Regions from separate parts of the Homo sapiens genome. Here region 1 is linked to region 2. Evidence: fine-mapped expression QTL. A gene starts in region 2. The other region holds a variant in brackets. All regions are shown on one strand. Distances are from middle to middle. Region 1 overlaps CAMK4 (calcium/calmodulin dependent protein kinase IV). Region 2 holds the start of CAMK4 (calcium/calmodulin dependent protein kinase IV).

Region 1 (17,530 bases), 270 kb before region 2:
TGTACCTCTGTATTTTGATTATATATCTTCTTCATGGCCATCCAATAGCAGTGAGATTTAGAATAGAGATCTAGACCTGTCAGAATCAGTGTAAGAATTATTATAATTATGAAACATTTTAAATAAATATTAGTTTCTTTCCAGAGATAAGTTTATGATATATGAAGCTATGTATGTTTCCTATAGTAGTAACACTTGTCTTATCTCTTCTTTTTCAGAATTGCTGTGTGATGCGTTACACTACTGCTGGTCAGCTTTGGAATATAATTTCCCCAAGAGAATTTGTTGATTTCTCCTATACTGTGGGCTATAAAGAAGGGCTTTTATCTTGTGGTAATAATCTCAACATGTTATGCTTTTTTTCAGTATGGTTTAAATATTTGTGTTTTCTTGGCTGGATGTCTCTTTCCTTGTGAGATATATTTTCAACTCTGACTCTGTAATCACTAACATTTTTTGCAAGTGCTAAACTCTAGGGAGTAAAATAGCAATATCAAAAGAGTTTTGAAACCCTTCTGATAAGTTTTTGTTCCCAGTTACACAGTATCCTCTAGGTCAGAGGTAGCAAATGTGGATCACATGACTGCCTCTAAGAAAGGGTTCTAGTAAATGGATTTTCTTCTAAGCCACTCTCAGAAAACAGTTTCTTGGTCATACACAGAGAAGTACTAGATTTGGTGTGTCTTAGAATATTCTTCCTTCCTTGAGCTGTGTTGTATTTTTCTTTTCAAGATTAAAAATACTGCCATTGGAAGGCTCCTGTTTTCTAAAACGTACCTATAGGTAAATTAATATTATTTTGTATATAGTGTATACTTAAGTTAGCAGTTGTAAGTAAACATCTACTTGTTTATTCTTAACTAGCCAGTACCAAACTATAATATGGTAGTCGCTGTGGGGAATAGTTACGGTACCATGGATTTGATTTTTGGCACCTCAAGGCCTGGATACTACAACCAAGATTTGTAGCTTCCAAGGAGTACTAAGATGATATGATGTCATGTATTCTGAAAGGATTAAAAGTTTCCCCATTACCTATCTGCCAACCTCTTGTCAGAATTCTCCTTGGTAAGTCTCTTTTTCACTCTGCCATGGTCACTTTGGGATTTAATTTTCATCTATATGGATAATAATAAATATTTAAATAAGAATTCTGGTAATATTTTAAAATGAGAGTTTTATGTCAGTTATTGCTATTAATAGTGCTATTTTAAAAATTGCCTTATAGGAATAAGTCTTGACTGGGATGAAAAGAGACCAGAATTTGTTCGAGGATATAACCATCCCTGTGGTTGGTTTTGTGTTCCACTTAAAGACAACCCAAACCAGAGTCTTTTGACAGGATATATTCAGACAGATCTGCGTGGGATGATTCCTCAGTCTGCGGTAGATACAGCCATGGCAAGCACTTTAACCAACTTCTATGGTGATTTACGAAAAGCTTTATGAGAGGCAAAATACATTCAAACTTGTAGTACTACAGATCAACTCTCTCAGCTACATGGCCTGTAAAAATCATTGATTCCACTTTTCTGCATAGCCGGTAGAAAAATTTGAAATGTTTTTGGTTCACTAGTACAATGTTTGGTTTTATTCCTAAAGTAAATAGCTATCTAAGAGAGGGCATTTTCACTTTTTTTTTTTTAAATTTTGAGACAGGCTCTCACTCTGTTGCCCATGCTGGAGGGCAGTGGTATGATCACAGCTCACTGCAGCTTTGATCTGACCGCTCAAGGGGTTATTCTACCTCAGCCTCCTGAATAGCTGGGAATACAGGTGCACGCCACTATGCATGGCTAATTTTTGTTTAATTTTTTGTAGAGATGTGGTCACACTGTGTTGCCCAGGCTGGTCTTGAACTCCTGGCCTCAAGTCATTCCCCACCTTAGCCTCCCAAAGTGTTGGGATTATAAGCGTGAGCCACCATGCCTGGCCCCAATTTAAAATGTGGAATTCAGTTGGTGTCCAAGACTTATCTTGAGACTCTTAAAAGCATCAGTCTGTAACTAGAACAAATACAGTCTTAGATTTACCCAAGTGCCTAGATATCATTTTATAATGATTAGAATTGAGTATTGTGGGTCCCCTAATTCTGTGGGTGCCTTAAGTGAGAATTTCTAAATGATTTTCACATTCTAAATGACTTTGGGTTTTGAACTCTCCATCTAGTTTACTTCTAAAATGGGAACTTGAGGCAATTCAGGTATCCAGGCAAATCTTTGTATATATTTTTTTGTGTACATGCACACATCTCGAAATCCATTTCCGTGTTTAATGTTAGTTGTTTATGTGTTAGTATTCCTGTGTCTACTGTTTTGTTGTTGTTAATATGGGTAAAGTGAGCCCTGAAATACATGCTAAACAAGACATGAAATGCAGAAAGGTACATAGTGTTTCAAGTGCATGGTAGTTTGATCTGTGTTTTACTTTATTGTGTTTTCTTGAGTGTAAAGAAAGAATAAATCAAAGTTCTTCATACCCATTTTGACAAAGTGGAACAGTGGAGCTGTTTTTTGCTTTTGTTTTTATTTATTTTTTGCCACTGGTGATGATAGATTTCAAAAAACAAAAGGTGGCAGCAGCACAATGTTCATGGTGAATTATCTCATAGTATCTAGATTGATCAAGATCTGACAGAAGGAATGCACAAAGGATTCTATATTCTTAATGATTTATTAATTACCAGGATCCTTTTCTAAATTGAATGTACTTTTGAATTACTAGGTTTCTTCTTTTTTTTTGTTCTGCAATAGTGAAAGAAAACTCAGTAGTTTAGTTTCAGTTTCTCATGGAAATTGGTAAATGTTAGTTTTGACTTCATCTATTTTTTATTTGTTTTTATTAGCGTAGAGTAGGAAGTCTCATATTCTACTGTTCTATCTAGGATGGTGAAATTCCAAAGGTGCCTAACTTGAGTAAGGGATTTGTGACAAGATAGTACACATTACTATAAGGGCTATTATTTCCTGAACTGGATGTCCCTAAAAGCAAATAAACTGCCCACTATCTCTACTCTAGTGCTCTCTTTGTCCTTATCAACATATACCTCCAATAAGTAATTACATAATTCACCGTTAAACATGGACCCACTCTAGGTAAAATTACCCTCATGGAAACATTTTCACTGTGAGAATGATGAATTTAAAAATTATGTTTGAATCACCTAAAATGTATGTGCAGCTTCTAGATGGCCCCTTAGATCTGCTGGGCTCTAGCTGTGTACTTTAAAAAAACAAAAACAGCTTTATTGATATATAATTTACATATTATGTAATTTACCCACTTTTAAGTATCTAATTCAGTGATGTTTTAATACATATGTAGAACTATGCAGCCATCAGCACAATCTGGATTTAGAACGTTTCCATCATTCCAAAAGATTCCTTTTGTCTTTTTTGCAGACTCATACCTAACACAAATCTAAAGTTTATCACTGTTGCCAGGATAATTACAGCAGGTTATGTTTGGTTTCATTTTTAAGAGTGGAGGTGTTCATGATTCTAAGCTCAGGAATCTTGTGATCATGTATTAAATATGTTATCTCATACTATAATGATAAAAAAGCTTAATGATGTGGGTTGGGATGGATATTAACATAAATAATTGAGTCCGCTGCTTCTATAGCAATGCTGTAGGATAGAACAATAATGTAAGTGATATATGTAATTAAAAAATTCTAGAAGCCACATTAAAAAATAAAAATAAACAGCTGAAGTTAATTTTAATATTTTATTTAACTCAATACATCCAAAATGTTATCATTTTAACATGTAATTGATGTAAAGATTTATTCTGATAGTTTGTACTATTTCTTGTACTAATTTTTTGAAATCTGGTATGCATTTTACAAATTTGGGCAAGCCACATTTTAAGTGCTCATTAGCCACATGAGGCCAGTGGATACTGTATTGAATAGCACAGTCCTATAGCATATTTATTAATTTGTCTTGTAGTAAGATGAAATAGACAATAATACGGAATAATATCTTAAATGGAAATCTTTGTTAGTCTCTAGAGCCTTCATTGCTTGATAAATAGGACATCTAAACTTTAGATATAAATCAGTTGTCAATGAGATAAAATTATTGCCAGCAAATATTTTCCTTCAAAGATAAGTAACTTTTGATATGGCAGTTGGTGAAATGAAAGAATATAATCTGCCTTCTTGTTAAATGGTTGACTATTCTGTAGCTTGTAGGTAGTACGTATTAGAAACTTGTGTATGTGGGAAATATTTGGCATAATACTGTTTTCAGTATATAGTAGCTATTTTTTAAGGAAATTAGTTTCATACAAGAAAAAGATTATTATAAAAGTGATACTTTTGCATGAAATATTAGTTTGTGTTGATAACTCTTAGTTAACCCTTAAAGTTTAAAACAGTACTCAAAAAAAAATAATGAGAATCTAGTATTCTGTAGTTAACTAATCTATAAGATAAATTGCTAAAGTACTAGGGAGCTTGTAAATCTTAAAAATCTTTTTATTTCAGTGTTCATTCAGGTTGGATATATTTGAAATTGTAGATTTCTATCTGTACAACATCTCCTAGTTAATAGAATTTTTTTCCTTCCCCTCCCTTCTCTCTCCTCCTCCTTTTCTAACCAAAGGGCATTTTATCAACAATCATGCTGAATTCAATTAATATCTCAAGCTAAAAAACTATGTAATTGAGGTTGTATCTGGAGAAGATGGGAAAACATTGTATAATTTAAGCCCTTAATTGTCTGTTGAGCTTTTAGGGCTGAGTAATTGCCTTTCATACAAATAAAAGCTTTAACTCTTTTCTCAAGAGTGTACCACCGTCCTTAGAATCAGGTGTTTTAAATCCAGTTTCTTTTAATTAAATGGGACTGTAGTGATCCCTACCCTGTAGAGAAATCAACAGAACTAGAGAAGCTAAGGGCTTGATCAGGTTTCCCCTAGAACCTGTGTTGCCTGCCTGCTGTATCTTCCATGTCTTTCTTATTCAACTTCTAGAAGTAGAGAAGGTTGGGACTTGAGTGTAGAAGAAACATCAGAATAATTTCAAAAAACAGGAAGTTGGAACTATAATTTTTAAATTATTGTATTGTTTTTACGGATTTTACATGTATAGTTAAATATTAAAATTCATCTCTTGCAGTTCAATAAAAGCTATAGTATAGATTTTATTTTTAAGAAGTTTATATAATTCTTTTGTGAACCAATATGTAAAACTAGAATATTTATTAAACTAATAATATGTATTAGTATCAATAAAATATGTATTTATTTTTAAATTGGTATGAAACAAAATAAAAATTTGTAGACACTCTTAAAATTGGTCATTGATATTATCTTTGTAATTTAACATTAAGTACTATTTAGTTTCATATGCCTGAATTTAAAGTATGTAATTTAACTTCCTGAATTCTTACAAAAGGAAAATATAAACCTGGAAAGTCAAATTAACAACACACATGCTGATCTCTCCTGCCAGTGTCTCATATAATATTAGCTGTTATACAATACTGCTGAAACTTTATTTGCTATTATATATTCAGAACAAATAATATATTGTGCCTTTGTAAATTATGGACAGGATTTATTGTACACATGTTGAAATAATTGTGTTACCTTGATTAGGAATTATGATATTTTGTTTGGAATTGAAAAAAACTAAAAGTGATTACAAGGACACCCACGATCTATGTTATAAGAAGGCAGTTAGGGATGCTGTGGTAAGTATGTAATAGAAAATATGACTGTGAAGCAGGGAGTTACTTTCCTCATTTAATAAAACATCTGGTACTATGGTTTGAATATTTGTGTTCCCCTAAAACGCAGATGTTAAAATCCTAACCTCTAAGATAATGGTTTTAAAAGCTTTGAGAGTTGATTAGGTAACCCTAATGAATGTGATTAGTACCTTTATAGAAGAGGCCCAAGTGAGATGCTTTGGTCCTTCTGCCATATGAGGACACAGCAAGAAGGCATCCTCTGTGAGGAAGCAGGCACTCATAGATACCAAACCTGCAGGACTGTTCTTGGACTTGTGCCAGAAATGTCAGAAATAAATTGTGATAAGCCACCCAGTTTATGGTATTTTATTATAGCAGCCTGAATGGTAGTGAGAGCACTGGACTAGGAGCTGGGCAACCCTGGTCTATTCCTTCTTCAGCCACTGTGACCTTAGGTAAGCCATTACCTCTCTTGGGCATAATAGCTCTCTTTAATAAAGTGAGCTTATTGGATTAAATGATTACTAATATCCTCTTTTAACTCTAGTGATTTTATAATTTTACTCAACAGAAAATATGTGAGCACTCAGTGTTAAAAAAAAGGCTATGAAACTCAAAGTATAATTTTATCTGAGAGAATGGGAAAACACTCAAGGAGTGATTCAACTGCACATTTCAGGTGTAAGAAAAATGTCCATGGTGTCTCTCTTGAATTGTGGTAACATTTGAAATCACAGAATGCAAAGTTTTGGTGGTTTCTTAAATGATTTATTATCGTATTCTACATGCCAACTGCTTTACATTTCCCAGCAGCAAGATATAGGCTTCTTTGGGCATGTTCTGACATGTCTGTCTGAGTGAACTTACACCAAGTAACATTGGCCCTCAGGTCAAATTTCTACAATTAGTCTTCCAACACCCATTTTTTATAATGTCACGTACTCTTCAAGTTCCTAGAAAACACCCCCCAACCCCCCCCAAAATTTACATATTTAATTACTGAATTGGGTTATCCAACCTGAATCCAAGAAGAAGCCACAGCTCTCATGTGGTCTGCCTCAGGCTTTGGGCAGCTGAGACAGCCCATGACTGTTGTGTCCCATCTGTAAGAAGTAGAAACTCACTGGTCAGTCACCACCATTGAAGAATACTGTAGCTCTACAACAGCAAATGGGCATGATTTTGATGAATTCTCTACAAACATTTTCTGTATGTACATTTATGCCCAGGCCAGACTTAATACATTTACCTAAAAATATTGTAATATATCTTTGTATTAAGTAGTCAATAGCACCATATTGTCAGGTTTTAAAAATGAAGTGTTCACAGCTCCATTTTCAGTGCTCTTCAAATTAGAAGTTGGGAAGGTAGCCTATAATCTTGGTTGTGTAAACTTAAAATATTTATACTTTGTCCTCCAAATCTTACATGCTCTTGTGTTTGGCTACTGACTTGCAGCCTAAACTATTGGAGATGTAGCTTTCCTGTATGCAGTGCTGTTCCATTAATCTAATCCTCTATGCTGCTATTGAGCTGCTTATATCCTTTTAGTCCAGAAAGCTTTCAGCAACCCAGGAATAAAAATTTCTCCTTTAGGAAAGACTAGAAAACACATCCAGATAATGTCACATAAGCCTGAAAAGCCCAAGTAGGAAGTTTTCCTTTCTCAATGTCTGCTAACTTACGATTTTTGTAACCTCACAGTAATTCTACTTCTCTTCCATCATTCAAATGACAGTCAATCTTGCTCCCTATCTTCCTTCATTTGTCTTCAGGAATAATGCCGCCATTCACTAATCACAGGCATTATCTGAAATAAAGAGGCAAGACAACTAAAAGTACACATACTAAATGTCTAAATGTCTCCCAAGTTTCTTGAAGATGGATGTAAAAATACTGCCTGCAATAAATGATATCAAAAGGAACTTACAAAACAGTATGTAAAGGGACAAAAGGGAGAGATGAAAAAGGACTTGACAGGAGCAGGTTGATGTTTGGAGAAACAAGTTCTGATGGTTTTAAATTTTGTTGCCTGAGACTTAGCTTCCTACAGGTTGTCTTTTAAAATCTAAACTTTCAGGTAGAATTCAATCAGAAATCCTGGGGGATTGCCTATTCAGGTCAAATAACTGAAAAGGTTGAAAAAATGAGGTCAGCAATAACCTTGATTCGGTCCTCCACTGGCAACATTTTAGGAAGTACGTGATTTTTTGGAGTCATGAGACATTTTTCAGAAATTGGAGTCTTGGAAAACTTGAAATTATCTGTCATACTATCATTTACTCTGTTTTGTCAGTGGAGACCTGGCCAATTCAGTTTTTGCTTTCAGTGACTGAGGCTTTGCTTTAACCTGGTGACTCCCAAAAATATCTTCGATGTGTTTGATGATTTTTATTTGGCTTAGAAGCACAGCAGATGAGCCAAGTATGTCAGGCTAGATGCTCTGAGGAAAGGCTGCACATGGACCTACCCAGAGTAAGGAAGGAGTAAGGAAGTCTAATTCAATTTTGCACGAGATGAGATTCTGTTGCACACTGGCAACACTTCCCTGTGTATTTCAGCCTTTCACATTTAGTATTCTTCCTTCACCTCTGCCTTTCATTTTTCCACTCTATGATCAGGCCGGTTCTCAGCCAGACATGCCCCCTACTTCTTCCCTACCTGCAAAGATTCACCCATCTTTCACATACAGCCTGTGTTTCCATAAAGCTTTCCTTCATCATTCCTGGCAAAAGGGAGCTTTTCCCTCTTTCCATTCCTAGGGCTTATCATCTGCCTAAATGCAGCATAGGTTATATATGTACAGGTTGTATCTATAAGGTTGGCTTTTCTCTCCAACTACAAAGCTCACTCCTGGAGGATAGCATTGGATTTAATTCATCTTTGACTCCTCCATGGCATATAATAGTTTCTCAGTGAAAGTTCACAGGGAAAATTGTTCCTGGAGGGGGCTGCTCCTGGGAAGCTTCAAAATTAGAAAATCACTTCCTTACAATGTGATTAGAATGTAGGCCTAATATCCCCTAAACTATGTTGTTTAGTTTCTGGGAGAAACATTAGCTATTGACTTCATTCATTTCTAAAGTATTTGTCCATCAATGATCGTCTTCAAACTGAGCAATCAAGAAGATGGGCAGGGGAGAATGTGGAATCCTAATCTACATTTTGTTATCTTTCCCCTCACTCATTCCAGTAAAGTCTCTGCTACACATAATGATGCGGACTGGCAGAAGATTGATATCTTTTGTTCTGAGTTCTACAGCGAGTGTATCCTAGTGGCTATATTATATTATTGATTGCTGTAATAATAGAGCAATAATATTGCTGTATATTATTTAGAGTTATAATTTTAGGTACTCCTAATAAATTGATATTGCACTTTCTACTAAATATTTCATTTGTGACCTTTTGGTTACAGATGTTGAAAGTCAAACGGAAACACAAAGGTCATGAATGCCTATGTTTTTCTCCATATCTCGGTCACTAGCTTCCCTTAAGGTGGATATTTTGGAATGAACAATTTCTCTGTGACAGAAATAGACTAAGACAAGGGCCCTTCTTGGATTTCTAAATATGTAAGGAAAGCAAACGAAAGCATTTACTCAAGGCCCTCTCTTTTCAAAGAAATAAAATACGTAACACTCAGGAAAGCGTGGGGATTAGAAAATGGCTTTCTTACATAAAAGAGCTGGCTGTTTGCGTATTCCCTGAGCTATTGTTGAGAAAGTCATTGTCATATAATGCCACAAAATAAAACATAATATTTCCTAAAATGATTAATGAAAATTCAATTGATATAAATTACTTCAGAATATTATGAGAGATTCAGAACCATAGGGATCTTCTTATTTCTTAGCTTAGTAAGTAACAGCTGTAGATTGACTTAAATGTGAGCAAATGCCAGTGAAAGATGTCATTTACATAATTTTAAATGTAAGGATCAAATTTCTAAAACATGCTCAAAGTGCTAGAAATCTTTTTAATTCTACTCTCAACCAACTCAATTCATACTCTAAATTTCTTTTCTTCAGGAGTGATGCAATTTTGCGTTTTTAGTTCTGTAGGAAAATTTCACTAAGTTGTATCTATCTCCAGCACAATTATTGTTGTGAGAGCATCTGCAACATAAAACAAAATTTTCCTAACTTTCTCAGAAGCAAATGGGAATACGAACCTTAAGCTAAGGAGAAAAAAAAAAAAAC[AAACT/T]GGAATATAGGAATCTGTATTCCTGCAAGTCACCAAAAAGGCATTGGGGTGCCATGAAAACCCAGGGTCATTGTTTTACTGTAAGGGTCCAGATACACATTTTAGGCTTTGCAGTCCATATGGTCTCTGTTGAAAGTACTCAACTCTGCCTTGACAACATAAAAGCAGCCACAAACAATATGTACATAAATGAGCATGCCTGTGTTCCAATAAAAATGGGGCTTTGGTAGATTTGCTCTGTGAATCATTGGTTGCTTGAGTTCTGAAAAATTTTTGGAGATTTGAGTTCAGTTCTTGGGGAATTATGTGGAAATTACTCTTTAAAAAAATATGCACATAAGTTTTAATGTGTGTATCTCAAAGACGAGAGATAAAATGAATGACTGACATTCAAGTAAGAGCATAAATAACTAATTTGTTTACTAATAATCTTTTACTGATACCTTTAGTTCATTGGGCATAAGAAATCACCTAAACCCCAACTCAGCTGTACCCACTCACTAAACTCACAAGACATTGAAAAATGTTGAAAGAAACACAGCAACATCTGTTGGACATGGAATGGACTACTATTACTATGTTTAGGCCTAACTCCTTAATAAATGGATATGTTACAACGTTCTTTTGGCTTATAGAGGACTTTTAAAATATTACTGAGACTTAAGGGTGCCGTAAAAAGAAAAACAAAATTACAAATTATGAATATGCTATTTGTTCTCTACGCTGCTGCATATTAACTGTATTGTAGGTATATAAAATAGGTCAGGTTAAAAGGAGGCAGTATGAGATGATAGTTTTCAATTTATGGTCATATATATATATTTTTTTTTGACGGAGTTTCGCTCTTGTTGTCCAGGCTGGAGTGCAGTGGCATGATCTTGGCTCACTGCAACCTCTGCCTCCCGGGTTCAAGAGATTCTCCTGCCTCAGCCTCCTGAGTAGCTGAGATTACAGGAGCGTGCCACCATGCCCAGCTAATTTTTGTATTAGGGGTTTCACCACGTTGGCCAGGCTGGTCTCAAACTCCTGACCTCAGGTGATCTGCCAACCTCGGCCTCCCAAAGTGTTGGGATTACAGGCATGAACTATCACGCCCAGCCTATAGTTATGCTTAACTGTACCTTTACAAAACAGATGAACTGCTCTACATCTATCAAGGAAAGGACAAACCTAGTAACTTTTTATCATTCACAAACTGTCAAAGTTGAGAGAGAGCTCAGGGAAAACAACCGCTTTCAAAAATTAGAATGCAAGGTCTTGTATTTAAGTAGCCTGAAATAATCTTTTAAATGGAAAATAAAGATTAATCAGAGTGAAAATTAAATGTTATTTTGACACAATGAATCACAAGCAACGATTAAATGTATATATTCTGTATCTATATGTTTTCCAGGTCAATCTTCAAAATGAGCTGAAAACAACTGTTTAGAATAGTGTGATTTTGCAGTCTTTGCATTGCTGTTTAGAGTATCAAACAAAATTCTGGGCCACAGATACGCTGCATTTCTCCAGTCTGGGATGCTCCTGTCAGGGCTTTAGAGATGACCATAGGGATGGAACAAAACACTGATCTGGGATAAGGCATAGCAAACCAAGACAAGAAAAGAGTAACCCACTGGTGGAATCTCATTTTTCCATTACTGACCAATGACAATATACCAATATTCAAATTGTATCACTTTCAATCAGAGGATGAGAAGAGGTTTTCTCCCACTTGCCTCATTTGAGCTCAACCAGGTAGATGCCTGGAGTCTTCTCTAGAGCAACATCTGATTCCTTTGAAGGAGTAAGACAGTTCACTTTCTCGGCAAGGCTTCTATTTTGCCCTGGTGGACCTCTGAACCAGACAACAGGGAACAGACTGAGTTCTTGAAGGAAGTTAGTATCACACAACCCAATCGTCTTGAGTACATCACAGAGCATTTATGAAAGTTGGAATTTTAAATAACCAAACAAATTAATCAAGTTTGTTATTGCTCTCCAAGATAAGTATAGACATGGCCAAGCTTTATGAGCTGAGATTATATTATCTGATCTCAGGTAATAGCCACAAGGAGTAATAATGACAAAATTTGCTCTTAATATATTGGTCAAAATATAGAAAGAGGAAATACTGAACTTGGTTACTGTGGGTGGTTTGCTGATATCTCTCCAGTGGTCTCTCTCCTTTTTTTTCTTATTTGCCAAGGAGACAAAAATTCACCCTGAGTGTGTCAGGGGAATAAAAGGACTTTGAAAAATTTTATAGGAAATTATTGGGTACATTTCTGTTTATCATGTGGTTATGAATATTGTAATACCAATAGTGAAATAACATGTACACAATTTTTTTAAATGCAGACACACATAACATCTAACCATTAAACAATGTTCAACCAGTAAATGCTCAACTACTAGCAATGACCCTGATCAGGAACATATCAGTGATGAACATAAGGAAATCAGAATATGGACTAATAGGCAGGAATTACAAGGAAATTACAAATCCTTTTACATAGGTTACTATCTGGAAATTTTGCACCATCTAAAGTAAATCTAGACAACATGACTGAATACTTTGCAATGACAAATAAGTGACATAATGGCACTATGATTAATTGACTCTGCTATGTATATTTGTTAATTATACATTGAGTCAACCATCAAGAAAATGCTAGTGCTGATTCACTTTGTTGACCTTTTTTTAAAAAAATTTGCTTTGCAAAAACAATTCTAAAACAAAATAAATGGCTTACTAAGTTTATCCTTTGCCTTTTCTGGCATTTACTTTTCTTTTTCCAACTTGAAATACAACCAGCTGCTTCTGTGCAATAAAAACTGATTTATGAAACAAAATGGCTCTCTCCAAATCTTCAGCCTGTAGGCAACCCACCATCAGTTACCATGCATGTGAAACAGGACATAGGGATTGCTAAACATTCTGAATTACAAAATATGTTTAAAATACTATGAAATTGAAGTCACAGTAAAAATTGTTCCTTTCTTTTTAAGTCTTCCACTAAAAATGACTATAGAACCTTGAGGATTATTCTAAAATCAGTATGTAAAAAATTTTCAAAAGTCTTTTGTTAAATCCATGTGTAATGGCAGTGTTGATTAAACCCTTCTAAGGAAATCTTAAAAAATGCCAGCTAATGGTCATATTCCCACTTTGAGGATAACTGGCATGATATCACCATCATTACACAATCTTCATCATGCAGATTTGGTATGGTTCATTAGATTTCCAGAAAGACATATTGCCTGTGATACAAGGATGGCATGAAGCTTAATCCAGGCCTCAAAATCAGATTCTATGTGCAGTTCTTCCTGAATGAAGACACATAGTTGGCTGAGAGTAGATTTTGGTAAGCAAGAATGCTATTGGCATCATGGCAGTACTCAGGAGACTCTAGGCTGTAGTCAAGACTCCAGGGCCCATCAGGAATCAGAGGGATTGGTCAGTAGATAATTTAGTAATGCCCGTTCTTTGAAGTCATGTTAGGAATCATTTCTCCTCTGAAGTAAATGAATGGGCAGGAGTGGTCAATAAGCTTTTACTCAGTGTGTAACATTTCTGAAACACTTTCTTTGTGGCCTCCCACCAGCTCCTCAATGTGAAAACTGAGGCCACTTAAATCTAAGCATAGAACTTCAAGTGTCACTTTGCTTAAAATAAAAAGTACTCTAGACTAGTGCTGTCTAATATGGTAGCCACTAGCCACATGTGACTATTGAGCACTTGATGTCCCAAAGGCCTAACATACACTCTTGATTTTGAAAACAGTATAAAAATAAAGAATTCAAAATATCACATTAAATTTTAATATTGACTATATATCGATAGAATAATTTGGATGAATTGGATTAAAAATACTATACTTTCATCTATTTTTCTTAAAATGTGACTAATAGAAAATCTTAAATGACATGTGCTTGCATTATATTTATATAATGCACTTGTTCTGGACAATTAACTTCTACCACGATATTATTCTAATTTTTACCTATTTATGTGTCCTGGGACAAGTGAAATTACAGTTTGAGAAAAAATACTGGATTCCAATTAGACTTTGTTAATGGGGGAAATAATTCAAGACTGTCCTTCATGGTTATAAAAAAAAACCTAGTTTATGCTATGTAGCTGAACTTATCTCAAAATAAAAACCCATAATGTAATGTGATAAGTGTTAGCTCTAAAATGTAAAATGTAATTTATTGTTTGCTGAAATTTGAATTCTTTTGCTTTGTGACTATATTGCCAATTAGGAGTGATGTTATGAAGTATTTTGTGAAATTAAATCTCCATTTGTCTACTATTATTTAGCTAAGTAATCTTTGAGATAGACAATACATTCCATTTTAACAAGCAATATAAACATTGGCTGTTCTTTCAAAAATGTTAACATAATTATCCTAACTTAGGATGTATGTATATGAAATCTTTGAATAATTTGACTGAAATGACCAACATTTTTGAAAGTTTGATTTGTTTCCTACTGAAACAATGAAATTAGTCACTATATAGTCATTATCAGAATCTTATCTTTAACATGAGTCAAAATTTAAAACTCCCATTGATTTTTTTAAAAATGTAGTTTATGGGTTTAAAAAGATAGAGGGAATTATCAACTCGAGTACTCACATGGAGGAATGGTAATATGCACTCATTTAAATGAGTAAATTCTAAAATACACATTGGGCATGGTATTTGCAACGTTGTTTCTATAGTTCTCAGGGCCAAACAATGCAGTCCGCCCTACTCTAGTGTTGAAATAATGTAACAACTGCCCTTGGAACAATATGGGGGTGGGCAGGGAGGAATGATGTGTTCTGATCTTTCAGCTAAGCGCCAAGTGCCACTTTCTAAAAAGACCCCCTTCCCTCTCTTTGCTCTTCCAACACGTGTGTGTGTGTGTGTGTGTGTGTGTGTGTGTGTGTGTGTGTTTCAGTCTCATGGTAAAAAGTACAACAGGAAATTGATCCTCTTAAATGGAAATCTTAATGCTTAACAAAGAAGACATTCTTAAAGGTTAAAAATAGCGAGCCCCTTATAATGGACAACATGGGAATTCTGAGAGGGAATAATTAAATGAGGAAGGAAGGAAAGAGGGAATAAGAAAAGTGCTCTCTACTAGATAGTACAAATAAAACAAAACAAAAAATAATCTTCTGAGCCCAGATGATGTGCTTCTTCAGGGGCTCCATATCAGTGACCTGTCAGATTCTTAAACTATGAAAGATAAGAAGTCCTACCTTGTTTTCTTCCCATGAGAACAGTAGTAGAGAGAGATTTGTGATTGAAAAGAAGAATGTCTACTGAGGTCCAACAGCCTCTACAAACTGGAGCTTTAGTTTCGTTTTCTAATTTAATAGTTTTGAGGGAGAGCCAACATAATTTAAGATCTCTTTTTTAACAAGGATTTTTATGTGATAGTCATTTTTATTGTCTTTATTTGGTCTCTGAAAATAATTATTTTTTAAAATGAATTCTTTTTTAAAATTGAGAAAACCCACCAAAAATGTGACACATAATTAATCTGATAAAATATTCATTTCAACTCAAACTAGAAATAAATTGGAGATAGTGCAATTTCTATAAGGGGAAAGTGTTTCTATGAAAGTCAAAGAGAAATTAAACTTATTCTGGGAAAAATCATAATAAAATATCAGGTCTAATGTTCCAGCTTTTTAAGAGTCTGATTTGAAATCAGTATTTTTCTTTATTTTTGTTTTTGTTTGTTTTTTAAGGTAAATAAATTGCATTGTGCTAAATTTATTGGCAGCCACATTCTCAACACTACATTGTAAAATGTGGGTACTTTCATTCCAAATACGAGAAAAAGACATACTAGCTTTTCATAAATAACTTTAGTTTATAAGTGATATGTGTAGATAACCATCAATTGGATAAAAAAAGAGCTTTGATAAACAATAATGTTTTCTTACTCTATTAAAGTCAATAATGAATAATCTTAAAATGGAATATTATTCCTACTCTATGAAGACATTTTGGCACTAACCTGTGAAATAGAATTTTCTAAATATTTGCAACTTGGTAATTATAGAGTTTATCCATTAAAATGTTCTTATCTGTAAAGTTGTATAAATTCATGAGTAAATACAATTTTATCTGGAAAATGAAAAGGAATCAATCTTATCTTCATCAGTTTAAGTACAGTCTTACCTTCTTTTCTTCCCTGTTTATTACACCCTAAGCTTTGTCTATCAGAAAGTCATCTTATTGGAGAGCAGGTGAAGGAAAGAATGGAACTCAGCGTGAGTTTGTAAATTACTTCCTCCAGGGTTGTAAAATGGCAGAATCTTAGAACATTTTGGTTATTATTAATATAGTGTATATAAATAAGAATAAAATAAAGCATTCTCCACACAGGCTTTAGGGACATATGGCTTCATGGCCTTTAAGGATACTTCAATTTCTTACCATTGCAAGTGGATTTTTTTTTGCACATATGTACAACTATCATCTATAAGCATCTCCTTGTAAACAGTTTGAACACATCAATGATAAAAAGTAAAATGTTGTAAAAGTTATGGGAACATGTCTTTTAGCACTACCTAGTATTAGCTAAGCAGTAGTTCAAAGGAATTACTGCCTTGTGAAGAAATCCAAAGGATGTAGGATGGCTAGATTTTCAAAGCAAAAACAATTTGCTACTATTCACTTCAAATATGTGCCACTGGTTGCTGAAAATGTATGCTTTTAAGTGTTACGTTGTGTTAACTTGCAAGATTTAACTCATCGGTATTAGGTATCCATTACATGCCATAGAAGACACTATTATTTTCATAAAGCAGTCACATGCATTGAAGTTAGAATTACCAACTGGTATATATGTATGTTTTTTGCACCTCAAAAACAGAATCACTATAGTACATATCATGCTTCCACACCTTTCTTGCTGAAGGACAAAGTACATAAAATGCCGGTGTTTGGCTTCCAGATCTGAAGGAAGCTGTTTAGTACTCTGGCAGGATCACATCTTGCTGTGGAACTTCAAAACCCACAGCAGAGCTTCCTTGCCCTTCTCTGGGAGCTGCTGCCTCCTCCACAGTCTTCAGCTTCTCCTCTGCTAGGCCCTCCTCTAGTTCCAGGTCAGCCACCTTTATCCCATCCTCCACTGCCTTGGGCACCATTTTGGGGGCCTCTTCAGCATTTATATCTGCACCTTTAACTTTCTCTAAGGCTTGCACCTTCATCAGCTCAGCCTGTGCCCCCTTAACTGCGGCTTGGGCCCCATCGCCTTGAATTTTCTCTCCTTCTGGAATAGCTTTCATGTCCTCGTTGCCATCTTGGATTGGAGAAGGGTCTCGGCTAGCCTTGTGGCTCTCCTGGATGCTGCCATGGCTGCTGCTGGCACTTCCCAGGCGCGAAGAGGCCACCACAGCCTTCACCGCTGCCTGATTGGAAACAGAAGAGTGTCAAGTGTTACCTCTGCTTTAACACCCCACATCAGAGCTCAACCCCAGCTTTGCTTTTAGGGATTCCGTTTTATAGGTTAGCGTTAAAGTTTTCAAAGTACCTTATTCCTAGATTGTTTGCCAAAAGAAAATTTGGAGAATGAACAGTAAAACCTCTTTCATCTCAAATTAAATACAAATTAGTGTATTTAATCATCTGG
Region 2 (14,609 bases):
CCTCATAGCTTAATCTATCACACACAGATTTATGGCCTACAACAGCACTTTTCAAACTGAATCACAACACATTAGTGGGATGTGAAATCACATGGGTTCAGCCAAGTTTTTTTAACAAAATAGATGAAATCAAACAGCATATAATAGAAAATATTAAAGTGCATTGCTGGTAATAAGAATAAACACTGTTTTATGAAATTGTTTCTGTTTTATACACACACACACACACACACACACACACACACACACACCCCTTACTATGGAAATCTATTTGGTTCCTAAACAATAATACATATAGCAAGGGATCCTATATAATTAGTTTAATTGAGTTGACAAATAAATGTATTTAAAATTATAAATGTATACACATAATTGTGTTTACATAAATGTGACACATAAATGTATTATTTAAAATTACATTGCAGTGGGGAGGAGTATGCAAAGTGCCTAGCCTAAAGAAACTACAGTAAGTGGAATGGGAACTAAATTTAAAGAAAAAAAAGGTTCCAAAATAGTTTAACACATTCTTCTCTTGTTCTAATTATCTTTCATTTGGTTTGGTTTCCTTGGATTTGTATGTCTGGGAATACATCTGGTTTTCTTATCATCTTTTCTTTCAACATGGAACAACAGTGAGAAACTAAAGGTGAGACAACTGAAAACAGGACATGGGTTTGCATGCACAGACGAAATCTGCACCACCAAGCAGGCTGGGCCATTTCCTGTCATTCCATGTGCCAAACCACTGGGCGGGATCTGGACCAGAGGCAGCTCCCTTCTCCCTCAGAAAAGCCTTTAAAATGCCAGTTTCTCAAATCACTGGGCAAAAGACCAACTGCTCTCGAGGATCTGGAGCCCTGAATAGGATCATGGCCAATTCGTATTTTTAAGTAGAGTTGAATGTGTGTGTGTCATGATTTTTGTAAACTTTTTGAAAAACTCTATGAACAAAACAGTGTCTTCAAATGTGATTTTAGGAAAATTACTTTGCCTGATACTTTTAATTCACCCGTAACCCCTATACTCTATGCCCTCCCTGCCAAAAGAAAGTGAGCACATCTGTCTTGGTCTCAATGGCTCCATGTGGATCAGTGCTGCCAGCACCTGCCTTCGCCAGCACTATCCAGGGGCTTCAGGTGGATATAGCCTTGGGAGTTTAGCTCCCCTTGAGTTCCCAAACACATCCTCAGGGTGTATCGCCCCAGTGGTCACCGTCCAATCTTCTTGCAATCAGGAGTCACTACTTTACAACAGACAACTGTAATGGAGGAGCCAACAAATCACTAATTCTGGTGGAGACTGTCTACTTTCTAGAGCTAACCACAACAGCAACACGTAACACCAGAAGCACTGTTCTCTTAGTATATTAATGACAACTGCATTACTAATGAATTAGAGTCACACTAGCAGGTGGATTTGGTCCAAAGCTGAGAGTAAAGGCTTGAAACTGATGACCTGAGTTCAACTTGATCTCTAGTGTAGGAAGAAAGAAGATTTTAGTCACTCAGCCAATATCTACGATCATCATTCTGTTGCATTCTCTGGCTCTATCGATTCTTAATAATTATATCTAGAATAGTAGTTGATGTTTTAAGTTTATTTACTTAAAAATTTCTGATAATGAAAATGATACTTCTCAAAGTCTCAGCCAGAGTAAGCATGCACCCCACGAATGCTGCCATGTACAGAAAACTTACCTAACAATACGCTTTACTGCTGACAAACAGAGCCTAAGTAAGACATTTTAGCTTTTATTGTTCCTCAATGTAGTTTAACTCTGTGATCTTTTACAGTAATCATAAGACTAGATAATAGAGCGAGAATCTTAGCAATGTATAGACAGAGGGTCTCCAATAGGATGGGCTTAACTTACAATTTTTCGACTTTTATGATGGTGGGAAAGTGATAGCATTCAGTAGAAATCGTACTTCAAATTTTGATCTTTTCCTGAACTATACATGGTAGGATACTCTCTCTGATGCTGGGCACCGGCCATTAGCCACAGCTCCCAGTTAACCACAGGAGGGTAAACAACCGGAACTCTAGAGTGTTCTCTGTTGTCAGTGTTTTTTGAATATTGTGTTTTGTGTTTCATATCTCACCATGTCTACAAAATCCCATCTGTACACGGTATTTAACAGTTATTATAAAATAGGCTTTATGTTAGATGATTTTGCCCAAATGTAGGCTAATATTAAGTGTTCTGAGCATGTTTCAGGTAGGCTAGGCTAAGCTACAACGTTTGTTAGCACAGGTGTAGTAAATGCATTTTCAACTTCTGATATTTTCAACTACAGTGGGCTTATTGGGACATAACACCATCATAAGTTGAGAAGCTTCTGTATAACCGATTAATATTTGTCCTCCAAAATTTACTGCAACACGTAATTCTGAACTGAAAAATAAAAAACCCAAACTTCAAATTTCTCAGTTTTTTCCTATGCAGGCTACCATCTCATAGGGGTATACAATTGGCAGTTTATTTTTTTCCCATTTTTCAAATTAAAGTGAATTTCTTGAGTTTCATGACGATGAAGCTTATTCATAAAGACAACGTGTGTGGATAAGTCAGCCTATTTGAGGCATCTAGGGTTAATGTTACTCTGAAAACAGATGTGCTACTGGGACAGTCCCTGCAGCAGCATCAGGCACTTCCTCTACTACACAGTAGTTTATAAAACACCCAGTAAACAATTTTAAGTAGATCATCCCTTTACTCAGAGGTTTACATGGTTCCACTGTCACGCATCATACAATTAATAACAGGCATGTTTTGGACCTTACAAAAATCGACATCATTGTCCTTTCATTTCCACCTATATATATAATAGATCTTCAGATGAATACTGAAAAACTTGATCAAAAATGGATGTTTATGTATACATTATTCAGTGCTCAAATACTTCAAAACATTTTTAACAGTGACAAATCACTGAATTTTCATTCAGAAGTTTGCCTATTTTACACATCTATATTCAATGAGCCTTCAATAGTACTAGCAAAGTGGGGGGAGAGTGGGCAGTGATCATTACATCTTCCCACTAAATACCAACATCCAGAATCCTGCTCTGGATCCTCCAATGACTTGAAAAAATAAAAAGGCTGTTAGCAATACTATTTCCAGCAAAAAGAGAATGAAAAATGAAATTGCAAAGGAGTAGTAAGTACAGAAGCTGCAACTTGTCAACCGTTGAAATTACATCTTCAGATTCCCTATACTAAAGAGCCTGGATCTAAAATAAGTGTTGAAAATAAATCTCCTTACCTATGGATAACAGAGAGAAAAGACAAAAAAAAAGGAAGTAAGGGAAAGAAAACTATAATTTTCAATGGATACAAATACGAAAGCATATGGAATCATGCAGAAGGCCAAACTGCTACCTGTTTGGATCTTCAGAGGAGGGATAGGGGACATATCTGCAATCCTAGGGAGATGGTCTGTTGCATATATAATTTAAATAAATCACTCCAGCCCATGAAAGAAGGGAAGCAGCAGCATTCTCACTAATTACCACTGCCTGGATCCCATATGCTGCTTTCTCTTTAAAGCCACACTAGTTCATTATTCTGCCTTCAACTCTCTTAAATGATTCATTTCTCCCTTCACTCCTGAGCAGACTCTGCAGGGAAGCTAGTATTTAAGTTTAATTTCTCGTGTCACTTGCTTTGGAGAGCTTGACGAGGGGAAGGAGGAGGAATCTAACTTAATAATTCTGTCTTGATTTGGAGGGGCACCCTCCGGCCCCCACCCTAAACAATAACTAGACAAACAGGACCCTCTGGCAAGCTATAATCGTGAGCAAAGATATCAATTGGGAAAGCAGGGCCCACGTGCGGTGGGAGCTGTCACCCAAGGGAAGTGGCAGCCTGCGAGAAGGAGGGAAGGTGGGAGGGAGTCGGGCTGATCCTACAGCTGCACCGGCCTAGGCGCTCTGGTGGGGTGGGAAGGACTCGAGCCGCACCTGAATGAAGGTTAGCTCTCTCTCAAGACACTAACTAGGTAGGGAGAAATCGAAGGGCACGAAGGCAGGCTCCCGCACCCTCCGAGCCGTCGCTGCGAGAGGGACAACCCCCAGTGCACGCCGCGGGCTTCCCCAGCCGGAGCCCGCGCCTTACCGTCCCAGCTCCGACTCCACCTCGAAGAAATCGCTCAGCGCATCCCTGTTGGAGCCGTCGATCCAGTAATCCGGGACGAGGCTCGCGGTCCCCGGGGCCGCACTGGCGGTGACCGAAGAGCAGGACGAGGCGGAGCAGGAGGGCACCGTGACTTTGAGCATCTTCGCAGCGGGACTCCGGAAGCCGCCGCCGCCGCCGCCGCCGCTGCCCGAGCGAGAAGCCGGCCGCCAGCCGCCGCCTGCGAACGCAGGAGCGAGAGAGAGGCGGCGTCCTTCACGCGCGCACACGCCCACCGCCGCCGCCCGCGCTCGCAGGGACGGTGGGCGGGGAAGGGGGCGAGCCTCTGCGAGAGGGCGCGAGGGGGAACCCGGAGTCGCCGCCCGCTGGAGGGAGACTAGCTGCACCGCTGAGGAGAGAGGCTCCCTCCCCCTCGCTCCTTCCCTCCTCACCCGCCCTCCTCCCGCGCCGAGCCTTTCCCGCCGCCCTCCCTCTTTCCTTTCTCTCTCCCAGGCTGTGGCTGCCGCGGTGCCGGCTAGGGCGGCTCCGGATGCTGGAGCTTGGGGAAGGCACAAGGACCCGCGCATCATCCCACGCGCCCTCCCGCGGGGACCGGAGCTGGAGGGAGACCGTGCGCAGCGGGACGCTGCTCTGGGATGGCGGGCGCCAGGCGTACCCTGGCAGCACCTGGGTCCGGGCGGCCCCGCCGGATAGCGAGAGAGGGACCTAGGTGGTGGTGGCGCAACTCATCCCTCCTTGAGCGCGTCTCCGTGGCGAGTCCCTCCCACCTAACACCAGCTAACCAGCCATCCTCTGTCAAAGCTTATATTGGTGGCCGGGGAGGGAGTACTGTGGTCGCCGATCCCTCAGGGCTCCTGTGCCTGGACCCAGTGAGAGCTGGAGGAAAAGGAAGCGCCCAGGTCCACACTGACCTGACTCACCTTTGAGTGAAGTCTTCAGTTGGAATAAATGCTGTCGTCGCTGCTGGTGGCACTGCCTCCTCGGCACTGCTGGAGCTCCTAAAAGAGGAGATACTTGGCTGTGTCGAGTTCAATCTCAGCATCTGAAGTGGCTCAGAATTACAGTTCTAGAAGGGCCTTGTGGAAGCCAACTAGTAAACCCTCTGCCTTAAGGCAGGACCTGTCCTCATTCATGACAGGGAAGACTGCTACATGTAAAAGCCCTTTTTCTCTTCCCAAGAGATGTATCCCATGATAAGCATTCTTATGTCCTGTCCATCAGCTGTCATGGCTCTTCTTCTCAGTATTAAACATACATCACTTAAACTACCCTTGAACTTTTTTCTTTTCAGATTTCAGCAAAGACGAACAACAATTAGTCATGTTCTGATACATATCTATGACAGTTATTATACCACAACTCATTTCTGGCTAAATAGCTCCAGGCGCTTTCACCTTACTTCACAGGTGTTACTTTTGGCCTTTTTTTTTTCCTGAGTTTCCTCCAACATGCGCTAAACTCTTCCTAGTAAGTCTCCATTCCTGATAGCACCAACCATTAATATGGTCCAATATTTTAATCTAATTTATGGATTTATTATTCTTAAAAGCCTGCCTGCTATACTGGTGAACAAACAACCAAAAATATCCAATCAAGTAGTTACAGGAATGTGATTCCTAGCTGATTGGAAATTGAAAATATATATAGTCATGCATCCCTCAACCACGGTGAGAAGTTGAAGAGATGCATCCTTAGGCGATGCAGTTGTAAGAACATCATAGGGTGTACTTGTACACAACCAGATAGTATAGCTTACTACACAGCTATGCTGGATGGAATAGTCAATTGCTCCTAGGCTTCAAACCTGTACAGCATTTTACTATACTGAATACTACAGGCCAGCGGTCCCCAACCTTTTCGGCACCAGGGACCAGTTTCTTGGAAGATAATTTTTTCCACAGACAGGGGGTGGGGAAGATGGTTCTGGGATGATTCAAGTGCATTACATTTATTGTGCACTTTAATTCTATTATTATTACATTGCAATACATAGTGAAATAATTATACAACTCACCGTAATATAGAATCAGTGGAAGACCTGAGCTTGTTTTCCTACAACTAGACGGTCCTATCTGGGGGTGATGGGAGACAGTGATAGATCATCAGGCAGTAGATTCTTATAAGGAGTGCACAACCTAGATCCCTTGCATGTGCAGTTCACAATAGGGTTCATGCTCTTACGGGAATCTAATGCTACCACTGATCTGACAGGAGGCAGAGTTCAGGCAGTAATGTGGGAGATGGAGAGCCCCTGTAAATATAGATGAAGCTTTGCTTGCTTGCCTGCAGCTCACCTCCTGCTGTGTGGCCCAGTTCCTAACAGGCCACAGACCAGCCCATGGCCTGGGGGTTGGGAACTCTGCTGTAGGCAACTGTAACACAACAATAAGTATTTGTGTATTTAAACATATCTAAACATAGGAAAGGTACAATAAAAATATGGTATAAAAGGTAAAAAATGGTACACCTGTATAGGGCACTTACCATGAATGCAGCTTGCAGGACTAAAAGTTGCTCCGTGTGAGTGAGTAAGTGGTGAGTGGATATGAAGGCCTAGGACATTACACTACTTAGACTTTATACATACTGTATGCTTAGGCTACACTAAATTTATTTAGAATAGTTTCTTTCTTCAATGGTAAATTAACCTTAGTTTACTGTAACTTTTACTTTATAAACTTTTTAATGTTTTAAAACTTTTTGACTCCTTTATAGTAATGCTTAGCTGAAACACAAATACAAGGTATTTTATACAAAATATATTGTAAAGCTGCACAAAAATGTTTTCTATGTATCCTTATTCTATAAGCTTTCTTCTTTTTAAAACAACTTTTTTAACTTTTTGAACTTTGTTAAAAACTAAAACATACACACACACTAGCCTAGGCCTACACAGAGACAGGCATCGATATCATGTCTTCCGCCTCCACATCTTGTCCCACTGAAAGCTGGAAGGGCTTTAGGGGCAATGACATGCATGGAGCTGTCATCTTCTATGATGACAATGCCTTATTCTGGAATACCTCCCGAAGGACCTGCCTGAAGCTGTTTTACAGTTAACTTTTTTTATAGCTAGAGGAGAAAACTCTAAAATAACAATAAAATGTATAGTGTAGTAAATACTATACTAGTATTTACTGGTAACATAGTATAAACTAGTAACATAGTCATTTATTACCATTATAAAGTATAATGTACTATACATAATTGTATACACTATACTTTTATATGACTGGCAGCACAGTAGGTTTGTTTACAGTGGCATCACCATAAACACATGAGTAATGTATTACACTGTAAGATTAGGCTATGATGTCACTAGGTGACAGAAATTTTTCAACTCTATTAGTCTTGTGGGACCACCGTTACACATGCAGCCCATTGTTGACCAAAATGTTGTGTGACACATGACTGTACAAAAACTATTCCTCATGATAATTTTATAATGATGAGCACAAACTCAATGTACAAATGCTCTAACAAATAACAAGTATATGCAAATTCATACAAATTCACTTACATACTAGCTTGTTTGGTGAAAGACTGAAAATGCCCACGTGATGTTACTTTTCAGAGAATAGATTCACTAATCGTGTTGAAAAATCAAGTTCACAAGCAAAGCAAGATAATAAAGCTCTCTAAATTCTAGCTTTGACTCAGTAAGTTTCCCTTGGCTTGCACTGACCAGTGGACAAATGGGCATGAAATAGTTGCTAGGCCATTTTTATTCTCACTTCTTTGAGGCAAGTCCAGCAGCAGCAGCACTGCATGTAAATGCTTGTCTGTTCTTAGCAATTCTTTTACAACATAAGCCCAAAGCAAGCATGTTACATTAAAGGAGATGGTAAGCCTTTTTTCTCCTGCTACTTTAGGTAACAATGGTGCAAGAAAGCCATTTCATGGTACAGAGGTGATTATAGAATTCATTTTATATTCAGCATAATTTTAGTCATTTGACATCTATGCTTTTCATAATTGACTTTTGTAAAAATGCTATTAATTGAAGTTTAAAAACAGGATATTTTGTATAATCCATGCAGCTTACTTTCATTTGAGACATAGATAAAAATTAATAAATATTAAAATAGATGAAACAGGAATTAAATATACAAAATGTACCATTACTTCTTATCAAAACTCAACTGAAATGACCAGAAAAGGAACAGGGTTATCATCCCACAAAAAGAAAGAGAGAAGTGATGTCAACTGAATCTTGAACACGTAAACAAACAGTAACAGAGGAGTTAATAAATCAGAAACCTAGATTTGCAATGGGAAAAGCCAATAAGAAGAAATCTAATCCCTACTATAAAATCAAGACATGTTCAGAAGTTAGAGTACCAGATAGTTCTCAAGGTGAGGCATAGAACAGAGAACAAAACATTGGTTAAAAAATTTTATAAAAAGTTATTAGGCCCCTTCATCCAAATTAGAAAGGAAGAAGTCAAATTGTCCTTGCTTGCAGATGATGTGATCTTATATTTAAAAAAGCCTAAAGACTCCACCAAAAAAAAAAAAAAAAAAAAAACTATTAGAATTGATCAGTCCAGTAAAGTTGCAGGATACAAAATCAACATATGAAAACAGTAGCATTTCTGAAATAGAAAATGAAAAAGTAATCCCATTTACAATAGCTACAAATAAAACAAAATATCTACGGATAAACTTAACCAAAGAAGTGAAAGATGTCTACAATGAAAACCGTAAAACATTCATGAAAGAAATGGAAGAGGACACAAAAAAATGCAAAGATATTTTATGTTTATGGATTGGAAGAAACAATATTTTTAAAATGCCCACACCACCCGAAGCAATCTACACATTCAATGCAATGTCTATCAAAATGCCAATGACATTCTTCACAGAAATAGGAAAAATAATGCTAAAATTTATGTAAAACCACAAAAGAAGCCAAATAGACAAAGCAATCCTGAGGGGAGGCCAGGGCAGGGGGAAGCTGGAGGTGTCATATTACCTGGTTTCAAATTATAATACAAAGGTAAAGTAACCAAAAGAGCATGATACTGGCATCAAAACGAATATATAGGCCAGTAGGACAGAAGAAAGCACCGAGAAATAAATTCATGCATTTACAGTCAAATCATTTTTGAGAAAGGCACCCAGAACATACATTAGGGAAAGGACAGTCTCTTCAATAAATAGTGCTTGGAAAACTGGATGTCCATTTGCAGAAGACTGAATCTAGACCCTCTCTCTCACGATACAAAAATCAAGTCAAAGTGGATTAAATACTTCAATCTAATACCTGAAACTATGAAACTACTAGAAGAGAATATTGGGGAAACACTCCATTTCATAGGTCTGGGAAAGATTTCTTGAGTAAGGTCTCAAAAGAACAGGCAACCAAAGCAAAATGGACAAATTGAATCACATCGAGCTAAAGTTTCTGCACACAGCAAAGGAAACAATCAAAAAAACTGAAGAGACAACCCACAGAATGGGAGAAAATATTTGCGAACTATCCATCTGACAAGGGTTTAATAACCAGAATATATAAGAAACTCAAACAACTCTACAGGAAAAAAAATCAGATTGAAAAATGGGCAAAAGATCTCAACAGACATTTCTCAAAAGAAACATACAAATAGCCAACAACTATATAAAGAAATTTCTATTCATCAAAGAAATGCAAATCAAAACAAGGAAATATCTCACCCCTGTCTTTCTGATAAATGACTTTTATCAGAAAATCACCTTAGAGTGAAACCTACCATTAAACAGGCTCAGTGACCCAAAGCTTCTAATGAGATACAATCTTTCTAATAAATGACTTTTATCAGAAAGACAGGCAATAATGAATGTTGGTGAGAATGTGGAGAAAAGGGAACCCTCGTACACTGTTGGTGGGAATATAAATTAGTACAGTCACTGTGAAGAACAGAATGGAGGTTCCTCAAAACAATAAATAAATTAAAAATAGAACTAACATGTGGTCCACAATCCCACTGCTAAGTATATATCCAAAAGAAAGGAAATCAGTATATCAAAGATACATCTGCACTCTCATATTTATAGCAGCCATGATAAAGAATCAACCTGAGTATCCATCAGTGGATGAATGGATAAAGAAAATGTAGTATGTATACACAAGGAAATATTATTCAGCCATAAAAAGAATGAAATCTTGTCATTTGCAACAACACAGATGAAACTGGAGGACATTAAGTGAAATAAGCCAGGCACAGAAAGACAAATATTGCATGTTCTCACTCATATGTGGAAGCTAAGAAAAATATTGAACTCTTAGAGATAGAGAGTAGAATGATGGCTATCAGAGGACGGGAAGGGTAATAGCAAGGAGGGGATAAATAGGGGATAGTTAATGAGCACAAAAATACAGTTAGATACAGGGAATAAGATCTAATGTTCAGTAGCATAATAGGGCAACTATAGTTAACAGTAACTTATTACATATTTCAATATAACTAAGAGTGGAATTGGAATGTTTCTAACAACAAGGAAGTGATAAATGCTTGAAGGGATGGATATTCCAGTTACCCTGATTTGATCACTGCACACTGTATGTTTGTATAAAAATATCACATGTATCCCATAAATAAGTGCAAATATTATGTATTCATAACAAATTCTTTTTTTAAATTAAAGCTTTTAGGCTTCCTGGATTACCTCTTCTAACAATTCACAGCCAAAAAACACTCCTACCAAAGCCTAGAAGAAGATAATATATTTAATTTTGTAAATGTTGAACAAGGAACGAAATATGTTTTAGGTCAGAAGATACAGCTGAGGCCATATTGAAAAGAGAGATTAAGTGAAACTCTGCACGATAAGTAGCGAGACCCCTGAGGGCACACGCTCCCAGAATGTTGAGAAATAGGTTTATGTCTATTTTGCCCCTAGCCATACAACTATTGGTGGATTTTTCACTGAACAAAATAAATAACCCAAGGAGGGTTATATATATAACACAAAATACTACAAATAATTCCCTCTATATGATATTCAAGGAAAGGCAAAACTGAAGTGACAGAATGCAGATCAGTAGTTCTCCAGGGCTAAAGTGGGAGGGAATCAAATGCAAAAGACTCTAAGGGATTTGGGGAGTGATGGAAAGGTTTTATATCATGGTTATGGTGGTGATTACAGGATTTTATTCATTTGTCAAAACTCTGAATTATACTTTTTAAATTGATAAATTTTATTGTACCTAAGTTACATCTTAATAAAAACAATTAAAATTAAAGGCACAGCCAGTGCTCTAACTTAGGTAAAATTAGAAGTTATTAATATTGGAAAGAAAGAAGTTAAATTGTTGTCATGTACCGATGACTTGACTATTATATAGAAAATTCTAAAAGTTGGTTTAGACTACTACAATTGATCAGTGAATTTGTCAAGGTCACAATATACAAGGTCAATATAAAACAATCACAATATAAAACAAATACTAATAGGAAATGATAGGAAAATTCACTAATACCATTTCATTTACAATAGAATAAAAAGCATAAAATACTTAGGAATCAATTCAACAGAAGATGTCCAAATCATCTACAGTTAAAATTACCAGATATTGCTAAGTGAAATTTTTGCAAATCAAAACTACAAAGAGAAATAATCTCATACCAGTCAGAATGACAATTACTAAAAAGTCAAAAAATAACAGATGCTGGTGAAGCCGCAGAGAAAAGGGAACACTTATACATTGTTAGTGGAAATGCAAATTAGTTCAGCCACTGTAGAAAGCAGTTTGGAGATTTCTCAAAGAACTTAGAACTACCATTTGGCCCAGCAATCCCATTACTGGGTATATACTCAAAGAAAAATAAATCGTTCTGCCAAAAAGACACTTACACTTGTATGTTAATTGCAGCACTATTCATGATAGCAAAGGCAGAATCAACCTAGGTACTCATCAATGGTGAACTGGATAAAGAAAATGTGGTACATATACACCTTGGAATACTACACAGCCATAAAAAATAATAAAATCACGTCCTTTGCAGCAACATGGATGTAGTTGGAGGCCATTATCCTAAGTGAATTAACACAGAAGCAGAAAACCAAATATCACGTGTTCTCACTTATAAGTGGGAGCTAAACACTGAGTAAACATGGACATAAAGGTGGGAACAACAGACACTGGAAACTACTAGAAGAGGGAGGGAGGAAGAGGTGGATGGGATGAAAAACTACCTATTGGGTACTATGCTCACTACCTGCATGATGGTGTCAACCATGCCTCAAACCTCAGCATCACGCAGTATACCCATGTAACAAACCTGCACGTGTACCCTCTGAATGCAAAATAAAAGTTGAAAAAAATCTAAGTGGAGAGATATATCATGCTCATTGACTGGAAGACTCAGTATTATTAACATAACAATTCTCTCCCTAACTGGTATGCAGACTAATCTTAATAGGCTTTGTTTGTAGAAAATGAAAAATGTATGCTAACATGTGTAAAGAAATACAAAACATCTGGGATACCAAAACAGTCCTGAGAAGAACAAAGTTGGAGAACTCTATCTGACCTTAAAACTTACTATAAACAGACAGAAATAAAGACATTGTGATATTAGTATAACAAGAAAAAAAGGGGTCAATGGTAAAGAATAGAGTACAGAAATAGAATCATATACATGTGGTCGATTAAATTTTGAAAAAAGTATCAAAGCAATTAAATAGGCAAAGGTAAGTTTTTACAGTAAGTGGTACTGAAATAATTAAATAAACACATAGTAACAAATGAACTACAATCTTTTTCTTATACCACAAAGATTAACTTAATTTAAAATAAACTTTTTATACAGAAGCTAAAACTATCATAGCATTTCTAAAAAAGACATTAAAGAATATCTCCAGGAAATTACAGTATATAAAAATATCTTAGACAAGACACAATGAGCTCTAAATATAAAAGAAAAAGATTTTAAAATTGCGTTTGTCAAGTTTAGAAACTTCTGTACAGCAAGAGACACAATCAAAAAAGTAAAAACAGAAGCCACGAGCTGAGAGTAAGTTCTTTCAATACAAATATTTGACAAATAATATGCATCCAGAATATACAAACCCTTAGAAATCAATAAGAAGAAAACTAAAAATATGATTAAAAGACTTCTAGTGTCTCCTCAAGATATAGAGAATTGGAAAGAACAATATTTTCCACCCTTACAAAAACAACAAAAAATGCAAGGTCAAGATTTTCTTGAAAACTTCAGAGAAGTGAAGTCACAGGAAAACCAACTAGTCTAAAATCTAAGGAGAAAAAGATGTCTGTGAGGAAAGATGGCACTTGCTAACCAGGAACAAACACAGCCAGAGACCAGTTAGAATTTGGTTAGAAGAGTTAATAAATTGGGGAGGTGTATCAGTTTGTTTTCATATTGCTATAAATAACTGCCTGAGACTGGGTAATTTATAAAGGAAGGAGGTTTAATTGACTCACAGTTGCGCGTGGCTGGGGAGGCCTCAGGAAACTTACAATCAGGGTGGAAGGCAAAGAGGAAGCAAGGCACCTTCTTCACAAGGCAGAAGGAAGGAGAAGTGCTGAGTGAAGGTGGCAGAGCCCCTTTAAAAATCATCAGATCTTGTGAGAACTCACTCACTATCACACGAACAGCATGGGAGAACTGCCCCTCATGAATCAATTACCTCCACCTTGTCTCTCCCTTGATATGAAGACTATAATTCAAGATGAGATTTGGGTGGGGACACAAAGACTAACCATATCAGGGAGTGTTGAGTGTGCGTTCACAGGAGAATGCAGAGCCCCTGGGAGCCACATACTCCCACACATAGGGGGAGTTCACATCTTCTTGCAGTCTTTTCTGGACGGACTCTACTGGGCATACAAAAAAAGGATGGGTGAGAGTCCTGAGAAAGCATGCTTCATGGTGCAGACCTGGAGGAGAATGGTAGCTACTGTGAGGGGGTACAAAACCAGCCAAGAACTTCTCTCTTATCTCCCCTGATAAATAGAAGCCTTCATATACAAGTGGTTTTGGCAACAAGCATTGTCACCTTTAGGCACTGGGACAAAGGCAGTGCAGCTGGGGGAAGGGAACAGGGAAAAATCCCCTTTTCCTGGAGGGAGAGGCAGGCATATGTGCTGAGCACAGAACTACAGATGGTGAAAAGGCAAGAGTTCTGAGAAGGTCACATTCCCAAGACCCATGTATATAGGGCCCCCTAAGACTGAAGTTTAATCAAAACAACAGAGACTGTCCCCTCTGCTCCCTAGTACCAAGCTAACACGCATCAGATAAAAAGTAACAGTGGGGTGCTGCTAGGAAGTTGTAAGAACGGGGAGACAGACCCTCTCAACAGCATAATGCAAATAAGAGAACTAAAGCTGAGTGTGGACCAGATAGAGGAACCTGCTCAGGAAAACCAGGCCCCACCCAAAACTAAAGATGTGGTTAGAGAAATCTGAAGCATGTGGTACACCAAGAATAAGCATAGCATGAATAAACTGCAAATCCAAACAATAT

What was found. PIP is the estimated chance that this variant, and not a neighbour inherited with it, causes the effect. A credible set is the group of variants that fine-mapping cannot tell apart.
Region 1: its variant is the best candidate, but not a certain one, in a credible set for the expression of CAMK4 in whole blood (INTERVAL, PIP 0.58).

Annotation. Positions count from the first base shown.
Region 1 is chr5:111,483,805-111,501,334 of GRCh38, reverse strand. It overlaps CAMK4 (calcium/calmodulin dependent protein kinase IV), which reads right to left. Exons shown (of 11, transcript NM_001744.6): 11 at 6,449-17,309. The coding sequence ends at 16,869. STARD4 (StAR related lipid transfer domain containing 4) reads left to right here. Exons shown (of 6, transcript NM_139164.3): 5 at 219-333; 6 at 1,229-5,302. The coding sequence ends at 1,449. Among named protein-coding and RNA genes, the nearest start is that of STARD4-AS1, 20 kb to the left of the region's middle. The variant AAACT/T (reference allele first, on the strand shown) is at 9,905.
Region 2 is chr5:111,214,152-111,228,760 of GRCh38, reverse strand. It overlaps CAMK4 (calcium/calmodulin dependent protein kinase IV), which reads right to left and starts at 4,377. Exons shown (of 11, transcript NM_001744.6): 1 at 4,117-4,377. The coding sequence starts at 4,277. RefSeq lists enhancers at 4,139-4,188, 5,149-5,248 and a silencer at 4,299-4,788.